2 separate regions of the Homo sapiens genome follow, and region 2 is reported to be linked to region 1. The links are microRNA targets in miRTarBase. Many come from high-throughput screens and were not tested one by one. Region 1 holds a microRNA gene; the other region holds the end of a gene's coding sequence.
Evidence for each region. Region 1 holds the annotated microRNA hsa-miR-3622a-5p (CAGGCACGGGAGCUCAGGUGAG, at 1,970-1,991, opposite strand). A microRNA usually pairs through its seed, bases 2 to 8, with sites in the 3' UTR of a target mRNA and lowers its output. Matches are read on the target gene's strand: a 7mer-m8 pairs with bases 2 to 8, a 7mer-A1 pairs with bases 2 to 7 and ends in A, and an 8mer does both.

Region 1 (5,528 bases):
CTGGGTTTGTAGTTCAAGCCCCATCTTGAAGGTGCTGTGCAACCTTGAACAGATCCCCCCCAACCCTAGTCTCAGTTTATCCAGACTGCACCTGCATCCTGGGAACAGGCATGGCTGTGCGTTTGATAACCACACCCATTGCCGGTTGGGAGACCAGGTTTTTCTCTCAAGGGAGCCGCAGTCTGTTGCCTTTTGCCACCATTTTGCAAATCAGATCTCAATTCTGGGCCCACCCAGCCACCCCATCCTGTCCCCTCCAGCCTCACCCTGACTTCTCAGCTTTCACTTTTTTCTGCTGATGGGTTGGAAATTGCTACTCTCCTGTTTTCTCTCCACCTGCACTAACAAACCCCAAGTGCTGCCCCCAGCACGAATCCCTGGTTCCCGGGTCCTCTGCCAGGTGCAGGTGCTGCGGCTTCATGTTCAAAGGATTCTGGGCACTGCGCTTTCTCCCTTGATGTGCCCAGCCAGGCTGCGGGGATGGGAGGCTCCTCTCCTGTGCGGCTCAGGCTGTTTTTCTCCCCAGAGCCTTGTGGCCAAGTTTCCGTGGCCCTGTGCTCTGGACCCTGGGCCAGGGCTGTGGTGTGGGCAGCCTTGAGGCCCTGGGTTCCATGCCAGTTCTCGACAGGAAGGCCTTTCATGTGGGTGCCAGCTGGCCTCTGGGCCCAGCTTCGGGCCTGGCAGGGCCTGAGGAGGGAGAGCTGCGAGTGTGAAAAACACTTTCTGTTTGGGAGCTGGTTGGTGGGAAGGAAAGACAAGAGGGAGGGGGACAGGCAGGTCAAAGAGCTTACCCAGGTTTAGAGGAGCGAGGCCAAGGTGCCCCTGTAGAAATGAGGCGATTCGGCCTTTCCTCCCCAAAAAGAGGTCTTGGCAGAGATACAAGGAAGCAAAGTCTGTTGGGTGGGGATGGAAAACACTTTCCCAAGCCTGCCTTCACTCCCTCCCTCCCCCGGGCTCACTGAGCCTAATCAGGTCAAGCACGCAGCTCCCTGCCAGACACTGTGGCATTGTTTAAAGCCGCTGCCTCCCCAGTACCCTCTCCCCACAGAACTGAGTTCTGACAAAGGAGGCCCTGAGGGACAGGGCTGAGAGGACAGAGACCCAAGGTCCAGGGACGCGTCACTCCCCTATGGCTCGCTCTCCTTCCCACTGGTTATTGTTTTTCTACCCTGGACCCCAGGGAGAAAAGGAGCCAGGCCCTGGCAAACCTGAAGGCTGTTTGTGTTGACATAAAGGCACTTTCTGAGCAAACAGCACTGAAAGGTCAGCAGTAACCCCAGGCAGTGCCAGGACTGGGCAGCGGGTTTGGGAGGTGTGGAGAGAAAGGAAACTGTGGGCCACTTGGGGTCGGATGACTTCACCAGAAGAAGAAGAAAAGCCAGCCAGGCTGCAGGGAGGGGGCTTCCTGGAGATGGAGCCCTGGAAGACCTTGGCTACCCCATAAAACTTAAATAGGACTTGAAGTCAGTTGTTTATCTGCTTTCCAGAACACCAATGACATGGGAGAGAGGCTGGCGCCCTAGGCAGGACCCAAGCGAGCCTGGTGTCTGGGGCAGGATCTGCCACTACGCTTGGCTTTCTCACTGTAGGACTCAGTTTGCATGGGAAACCAAAGGAGAATTTCAAGTGTCCTACTCACACATATTCTAGCCTTTCAGGAAACATTTACTGAGCATACATCACCCACCTGATAGGGGGCTAAGCCTGGGAATGCTTTCAGAGATGAGTAGCACAAGGTCTCAGATAAGGTGACCCATTTTCCCCGTTTGCCTGGGCCTCCCAGTTTTAGCACTGAACATCCCTTAGCTCAGGAAGCCCAGGAAACCCTTTGGTTTGGGGCATACTTGGTTGGTTGGTCACCCTAGCATCAGTCATCAAGCAGCTCACGATCTGCAAACAATGGTAGACATACGAGTGATATAATAGAGGGTGCACAGGCATGGGAGGTCAGGTGAGCTCAGCTCCCTGCCTCACCTGAGCTCCCGTGCCTGTGCACCCTCTATTGGCTATGATCACACCACTGCACTCCAGCCTGGGTGACAAAACAAGACCTTGCCACTAAAAAAAAGAGAAAGAAAGAAAAGAAAGAAAGAGAGAAAGAGAAAGAAAGAGAGGAAGGAAGGAAGGAAAGAAAAAGCTACTTTTTGAATGAAAGAATGAAAAAGCATCTCTCAGCTAGGAAATGTCTTGCCATGATGACACCTGTGTTCAATGGGGAGCTACGAGAACATTTTAAAAAAATCTACTGTACTGAGGCATAATTTACATATAATACAATGCATACACTTCAATGTAGACTTTGATGAATTTTAACAAATATATACACTCAGTAACTGTTAAATCAATCAAAATATTTATAGCACCCCAGAAACTTCCCTATTTCTCTTTTGTAGTTAATCCCATCCTAACCATCCCATCCCAGGTAACCACTTACCTGATTTCTGTAACTATAGATTCATTTTAGTTTTTCTAGAACATCATCTCAATGGAATAATACAGTCTGTACTCTTTTGAGTGACTTCCTCTACTCAATGTGCTTTTGAGATTTATCCAAGTTGGTTTGCATATCACTAGTTTTTTTGTTTTTTTTTTACTGGTGAGTATGGATTTATCATAATTTTTCCATGCATTTGCCTATTGATGAACATTTGACTTGTTTCCAGTTTTTTGCTATTCTGGACAATGCTGTTGTGAATAGTATGTACAAATTTTGGTATAGAAAAACATTTTCATTTCTCTTGGGTAAAAACCCAGAAGTGAAATTGCTGGATCATAGGTTAAGTATGTGTTCAGATTTATAGGAAATCACCTAACTTTTCCAAAAGGGTTGTACCACTTCACAGTTTCACCATTAATGCATGAGAGTTCTCGTTGCTCCACATCCTCACAACATTTTGTATTGTTGGTTTTTGAAATTTTAGCCATTCTAGTGGTATCTCAGAGTGGTTTCATTTGCATTTCCCTGATGATTAATGAAGCTGGAACACTTTTTCATGTGCTTACATGGTCATTCATATACTTTTCTTGCAAAATGTCTGTTCATGTCTTTCATCTTTTTTTTTTTTTTTATTTTTGAGGTAGAGTTTTGCTCTGTTGCTTAGGCTGGAGTGCAGTGGTGTGATCTCAGCTCACTGCAACTTCCACCTCCTGGGTTCAAGTGATTTTCCTGCCTCACCCTTCCAAGTAGCTGGGACTACAGGAGCCCACCACCATGCCCAGCTAATTTTTGTATTTTTAGTAGAGACAGGGTTTCACCATGTTGGCCAGGCTGTTCTTGAACTCCTGGCCTCCAGTGATTTGCCCATCTCGGCCTCCCAAAGTGCTGGGACTTTCATCCATTTTTAATTTGAGCTGCATGTCTTTTTCTTATTGAGATGTATGAGTTCTTTATGTATCCTGAAAGCAAGTCCTTTGTCTCATATATGTATTGCAAATATTTTCTCTTATTCTGGGATTTTTTTTCTTTTCATGTTCTTAAAGGGATATTTTAAAGAATAGAGGGTTTTAATTTTGATATAATCCAATTTATCAAAATTTTTCTCTTATGGTTTGTGACTTTCATGACCATATTTCTTAAAGTCACAAAAATTATCTTATGTATTTTTTAAGAAGTTTTATAGATTTAGTTTTTACATTTAGGTTTGTGGTCCATATCAGATGAATTTTTGTGTATTATATGAGGTAATATCAAAGTTTGTTTTTTGCATATAAAAATCATTTGTTGAAAAGACTTTGAAATCATTGGTGTCTTTGGGGAAAATCAATTGATATATATGTGTAAATCTATTTCTGGATCTCAATGTGGTTCAATTGATCTATATGTCTGTCCTTACACCATTATCTCATTGTCTTAATTACTGCTGCTTTAGAGTAAGTCTTTTTTTTTCTTTCTGAAATTTTAAATTTTTATTTTTTGTAGAGTTGGGGTCTCACTATATTGTCTAGGCTGGTCTGGAACTTTTGGGATCAAGTGATCCTCCTGCCTGAGCCTCCCAAAGTGCTGGGATTGCAGGTGTGAGCCTCCATGACAGACCTAGAGAACGTCTGGATATTATGTAGTATAGGCCCTCCAACTGAACTCTTCTTCAAAATTCTGTGGATTTTCTAGATCCTTTGCACTTTTATATACATTTTTAGAATCAGTTTTGTCAGTGTCTTTAAAAACAAGGCTGCCGAGGCCTGGCACAGTGGCTTACGCCTGTAATCCCAACAACTCATGAAGCTGAGGTGGGAGGGTCACTTGAGCCCAGGAGGTCAAGGCTGCAGTGGACTATGATCATGCCACTGCACTCCAGCCTGGGTGACAGAGCAAGACTCTGTCATTTACAAAAAAGAAAGAAAGAAAAATAAGGCTGCTGGGATTTTGATTGGAAGTGTGTAGGATATGTAAAAGAATATAGGAAAATGAACGTCTTTTTTTTTTTTTAATTTTTATTTGAGACGGAGTCTTGCTCTGTCACCCAGGCTGGAGTGCAGTGGCGCAATCTCGGCTCACTGCAAGCTCCGCCTCCTGGGTTCCCACTATTCTTCTGCCTCAGCCTCCCAAGTAGCTGGGACTACAGGCGCCCGCCACCATGCCCGGCTAATTTTTTGTATTTTTAGTAGAGACAGGGTTTCACCATGTTAGCCAGGATGGTCTCGATCTCCTGACCTCATGATCCACCTGCCTCGGCCTCCCAGAGTGCTGAGATTACAGGCGTGAGCCACTGTGCCCAGCCATGAACGTCTTATTAATGTGAGTTTTCTTATACATGAACATGAGATATATATATAGATAGACAGATAGATAGATACCACTATATATATATATCTCCATTTATAAAGATATTTAAAAATTTCAGCAATATTCTGTACTTTTTACTATAAAGATCATGCCCATCCTTTACTAAATTCATTCCTATATATTTTATATTTTTATGCTGTTGCTAAATGATTACTTAATTTTAATTTTCTTATTTTTTGCTCCTAGTATATAGAGATGCAATGGGTTTTTGTATATTGGCCTTCTATATTATGATATTGGTAAATCACTTTTTAATAATTGCCATTTTCTTGTAAATTCCCTAGGATTTTCTATACAAACAACTATGCTGTCTGTGAATAAATACAGCTTTATATTTTTCCTTCCAATATGTATTTCTTTGTTTGTCTTATTTCGTTGGGGAGGACCTCTAGTCAAATAGAATAAAAGTGTTGGGAGATGAGATCCTTGCCTTATTTCTGGTTTATAAGGGAAAACATTTAGACTTCCACCATTAAATTTGCAATTAGCTATCCCTGGTGCTCTTGTTGTCATATCAACTTGACACATTATAAATCCAATCTCCAGTCTTATCTTAAAATAGTCTTAAAATAATCTTCCCTTACAATAGTCAGTTGTCTCTCAAGAGAATTCAGAGAGAAAAAAATCCATGCATTTTAATATTTACGTTCTAATTTACCACTTCTGCTGCTCTCCACTCCTTCTTGCAGATCCAAGTTTCTGTTTCCTGTTAATATAAAGAATACCCTTTAGCAATTTTTATAGT
Region 2 (5,000 bases), not on the chromosome of region 1:
TCAAATATTGTGACCTTTTTTGTGTGATGTTCTCTGTATCTAGAAACAACTCATCCAGGGCATGAGAGTTAGATAAGCCCTGGGAGATAACCTCATTCCATTCCTTTTTTTTTTTTTTGGAGACAGAGTCTTGCTCTGTCACCCAGTCTGGAGTGCAGTGGCATGATCTTGGCTCACCGCAACCTCTGCCTCCTGGGTTCAAGCAATTCTCCTGCCTCAGTCTCCCGAGTAGCTGGGATTACAGGTACCCACCACCACACCTGGCTAATTTTTGTATTTTTAGTAAGAGACGGGGTTTCCATTATGTTGGTCAGGCTGGTCTCAAACTCCTGATCTCAGGTGATCCACCAGCCTTGGCCTCCCAAAGTGCTGGGATTACAGGCGTAAGCCACCGTGCCCAGCCATCATTCCATTCCTTTACAATTGAGGATGTGGCAGCTAAGAGGGAAAGGTCTTCCATCAAGCAGTGGCAGGGCTAAGGCCAGATGATGCCCTCCCACTGGGTCTCTGGCTTGTGAATGTGGCTGGGGTGGTGGGTCAGAGAGGAAGGGGATCTAGGTGGTGTACTGAGAACCTGTGGGTTGATTGCATCATGCATCAAGTCAGTTCCTGTGATGAAGGAGACCAAAATTTAGCTATGACGCTGGGGTGAGGCAGTTAGCTGAGCTTTGCCCTTGGTCACAGACGGAACCTCCAGTACCGAAAGCAGCTTTCACTGGCAGGGAAGTCAGAAGACGGAAATGACATTTCGTGTCCTGACAGCCCTTCCCACATTTTTGGTAGAGCACTTCACACACATTCTTTCCCTTGGGCCTTATGACAACTCTGTGCGTTACTATGGGCCTGGAAGACTATCAAGGACCCTAGTTCTGGAGGGAAGGACACTGAGAAGAGGCAGGAGAGGTGGTGGTGAGAAAAGGCAGGAGAGGTGGTGGTGAGGAGAGGTGGTGGTGAGGAGAGGTGGTGGTGAGAAGAGTTCGTGGTGACCAGCCTGTGGCACACTTTATATGGCCTTCCTGGAACCACAGTCTTATTCTCAGGTTCCAGATGAGGACACAGGCTCAGTCCCCATGGCTGTCAAGTGGCAGAGCCAGGATTTAACCCAGACCTCCTGGCTCCTAAGTCCATATGCGGTTGGTGGGAGTGTAAATGGATATAGTCCTTATAGGAAGCCAATTTGGCAAAATCTAACAAAATTAAATACATACCTTTTTGACCCTCAAATTCCACACTTAGGAATCTACCCAACATTTATACTGGAACATATTTTTTTTTTTTTTTTTTGAGACAGAGTTTCACTCTTGTTCCCCAGACTGGAGTGTAATGGCACAATCTCAGCTCACCGCAACCTCTGCCTCGCAGGTTCAAGCGATTCTCCTGCCTCAGCCTCCAGAGTAACTGGGATTACAGGCATGAGCTACCATGCCCAGCCAATTTTGTATTTTCGGTAGAGACTGGGTTTCTCCATGTTGGTCAGGCTGGTCTCAAACTCCTGACCTCAAGTGATCTGCCCGCCTCGGCCTCCCAAAGTGCTGGGATTACAGGCATGAGCCACTGCGCCCGGCTGAACACATTTTTATGTAAACAAGCAGTGTGTACACTTAAGAGTCTTATGCACAGGATAATGTCTGGAAAAATGCTTACTGCATGTCCCCAGCTCCAGGAAAGAGGAGAGCTTGTGGGGCCCTTCCCCAAACAGGCTGTGTCCTGGTCCTCAGTGTGGCTGGCTGGAAGCCAGGGGGACTCAGCCTTTGACTAAGAATGCTCCATCCACCCCTGGGACCGAGAAAATCTCCTTTCACACAATTCATTACTCCTTAGGGTGGAGGTTTAGGAAAGGGGAGAGGCATCCAGAATGCCCGCTTCCTGGAAGCCAGTGGTCACATCCGGCAAGGGGACTTCAGTGACCTTCCTCTCACCCCTCCAGCAGCAGAATCAGAGCTCCCTCCTCAGCTGCCTCTATGCTATCTGCCCCTCCCTTCTAGCACATGTCCCACAGTACTGTCCTCACGTATTTCTTTTTTTTCCCATGGGAAAAGCAAAGACCGTAACCTATTTACTGCCATCTCTAGTACCCAGGATATTACACCTAGCACATGGGGGCTTCAGGGACTGTCTGTCTCATAGATGGATTAATTTACTTTCTCCTCTCTCTGTCTGTTAGCTGGTTTAAAGGAGGGCCCAGGAATGTTTTTATAAGAAGCATGGGCCTTTTGGAAAGGTCTGTTTACCCAAACCTTTCTATATTAAAACTTAGAAAACATAATTCCATTTTTTTTATTATTCAACATTTTATACATAATAAATACAAACTTTTTACAGCCACTGTAAAGAAAGCACATCTGCACAGAGGCTCCCTCCGAGCCCTGACCTGTGCACTGTGGTGCTGGATTCCATATCCTGGATGGAGGGGTTATTTTTTAAAAAGGAGGCATGTTTTCACAACTTTGTTTTTTAAAATAAAATTAGCAGCTCTTCCAAAAAATATTTTAAAATACAACAAAAGATTTCAAATAACCCTTTGAGGTTGTGGAAAACCCAAATTCAAGGACAATTTGGCTAGCTAAAGACAGAATACAAGACTGGGTGGCAAGAACTGCTCTATTTAATAAGCATTTGAAGATTTTTAATATGTTAGCAAACTTTAAAATCTTAAAAAAACCACCCTTTTAATTTCTTTTTTAAACTTAAGAATAAGTTTGATAAACACAAAAGACCTCAAATAGATCAACAGGTTAAGAAGTGTAAAAAACAACAACGAAAAAAAACCCCAAATCATGGAGAAGATTCATTAATGGGTATTGTCACTGAAGTGATCAAAGAACTAAAAATTTCTTCAGTTATCACCTTACTTTTGGTCAAAAATCCCATGGGGACATTTGGCGAGCATTTCAAGTTTTTTAAGATTCTTAGGAGGGATGGAGTTTTCAAAGCATAATACAACTTGTAGATTAAATTCTGCAAATTTGATTTCTTAACCAAGGAAAAAAAAAAAAAACAAACCACAACCGGCGAACATCCCTTAGTCCCTAGGTATTGTGCTCCCTACCTTCTACAGGAGCGGACAGCAGACAGTCAGCACCTGACGTGGGGGCACCTGCTGCTGCAGGCTTGCTGGCCTGCAGAGAAGGCCACTCCTGGCTTTCCCTGTGACACACAGAAGACACTTGTCTTTTCCTGGTCAATCTGTACTTGTGCAGGGTGCGCAATCCTTCAGTCCTTTCTCATAGAAAGCTGGTTTCCTCCACGAGCCACCAGGTTCTTCCTTCCACGGAAATGTCAGGGTAGTGGGACCTGGAAGCTGCATTTTCCACCATAGCAGTTGGTCTGGACCAGCCACAGCCTGGCTGTCTGGGCCGGTCTGCTGGCTTGGGAATAAAATAATGCCGGGGCGTCCCCAGTAGAGAAGCTCAACAATGCAGGTATGTGTCCTCAACTTATCTAGACATTTGGATTCTAAGGATACTGGTAAGAAGAGTATATGCTGTAAAAATTAAGATGAAAAATACCCAAATACAAAAGAACATTATATTGGCTAATTTCAGATCCGGAAGTTCCATTTCTGCTTTAGCCACAGCCTCCTTTCTATTAGTCTATGTGATGAACAAGATGTGGCTACTAGTTCAGCCCCTCCATATTAGCTCTGCTAATTCTAAATGAATGGCACAGATATTAATACGAAGGACACTGTTATTTTAAGTCTGTTAGTTGTGGAAGAGATGTGCGTTAATGCAATTGGTGCTAAATTCAGGGCAGTCCAATTTTTCCCAATAAGGTTTCACTTTCTCAGTCTGGGGACTAACCTTGGGGAGGAGCCAGCCTCTCCTGAAATCCCTCCTTCTGTTTCCTTATGTAGCCAACATGATCTGATTAATTCTCAATCAGATGAGCAAAAGCCACTTGAAGAAAGATGAGAATCTTTGCCACATCCTTGTGGTCACAGTAATATACTGTACGAGTGCACATGATCAGTAATTTAGGGACTGTGCCCTGGAATGAGGCCTGTTCTTGAGTCTCATATAAAAACAGACCACTGTTAGGCATGAGGGCTGCCCCCCTCTTTGCTCCTAGGGTCCGCTAGGATTTGTGCTATGGTAGGAGAAATGACATAGAAAATGACAACAAAAAAAAAAGGCACGAAATATTCAAAACGTGGGAGGAGTCTACCAGGCCACCCAGTCACACATAATCCTCCTTGTTTTTTGCTCTGTTCAAGAGTCATCATCATGCAAAGGTGCCTAAAAAACAAGACTGGCCAAACTCCAAGCCTGGCCTTGATTGTAGCAGTAATGGATGGGCAAGCCCATCATCACACCAGTGTGATTTCCACATCTTCAATCTTCTCTGCTGGCCTTCGGTGATTCTGTGTAGGTGGAGGGGGAGCTGCCCGGACCTGAGCAGGAAACAATTACGTAGTTTGTCAGTCAGTTCCTGACTCAGTATCTGAAGCATCCCCAAAACCTAATCACTCATCTGTCCAAGGACATGGGCACCCTAGGGGTCTCAGAAATGTTGTGAGCACGTGCTTTCAACCTAGTCTTCACTATTTCCTACACTGAGAAGCAGTTGTTCTCAATGAAATATCAAGCCCACAAATCAGCTTCTTGCCTAGGCTAAAAACCTCATGGGCACAAGTCCTATGACTAAGATCCTAGCACATCCTCCAAAGCAAAGGTCTGGCTGGAAGCAAGGGAGAGCAATGCTTAGAGAAATGAAACATTTCAGTGTGTCTTGGGTAGAGAGTTACAAAAGAGAAGGCTAGAAAGGTAGGCTAGGGTTAAGTTGTGAAGGGCCTTGTTAAACCATGTTTAAACATCTGCTTTAAGAAGAAAAAAATAAATCTGTGCTTTATTCTGTAGGCAAAAGAGGAGTTTTTGGTGGATTTTAAGCAATATCAGATCTGCGAAAAGATGACTCAGGTAACAACTGGAGAAAGGATCAGAGGCAAGCAAGAGTCCAAGTAAGAAGGCAACTTAGGAGACTTTTGTAATCCTCTGAAT

Region 2: the mRNA of FCHSD2 is a reported target of hsa-miR-3622a-5p. Seed matches in the 3' UTR shown: 7mer-m8 at 4,133-4,139.

The regions. Positions count from the first base shown.
Region 1 is chr8:27,698,153-27,703,680 of GRCh38, reverse strand. MIR3622A (microRNA 3622a) reads right to left here and starts at 2,004; the gene lies at 1,922-2,004. It overlaps MIR3622B (microRNA 3622b), which reads left to right and starts at 1,914; the gene lies at 1,914-2,008. LOC124901920 (a long non-coding RNA gene) reads right to left here and starts at 2,711. Exons shown (of 2, transcript XR_007060869.1): 1 at 1-2,711. It also overlaps a transcript of SCARA3 not described here. RefSeq lists a silencer at 402-547.
Region 2 is chr11:72,834,482-72,839,481 of GRCh38, forward strand. FCHSD2 (FCH and double SH3 domains 2) reads right to left here. Exons shown (of 20, transcript NM_014824.3): 20 at 2,264-4,393. The coding sequence ends at 4,310. It also overlaps a transcript of ATG16L2 not described here. Among named protein-coding and RNA genes, the nearest start is that of ATG16L2, 23 kb to the left of the region's middle.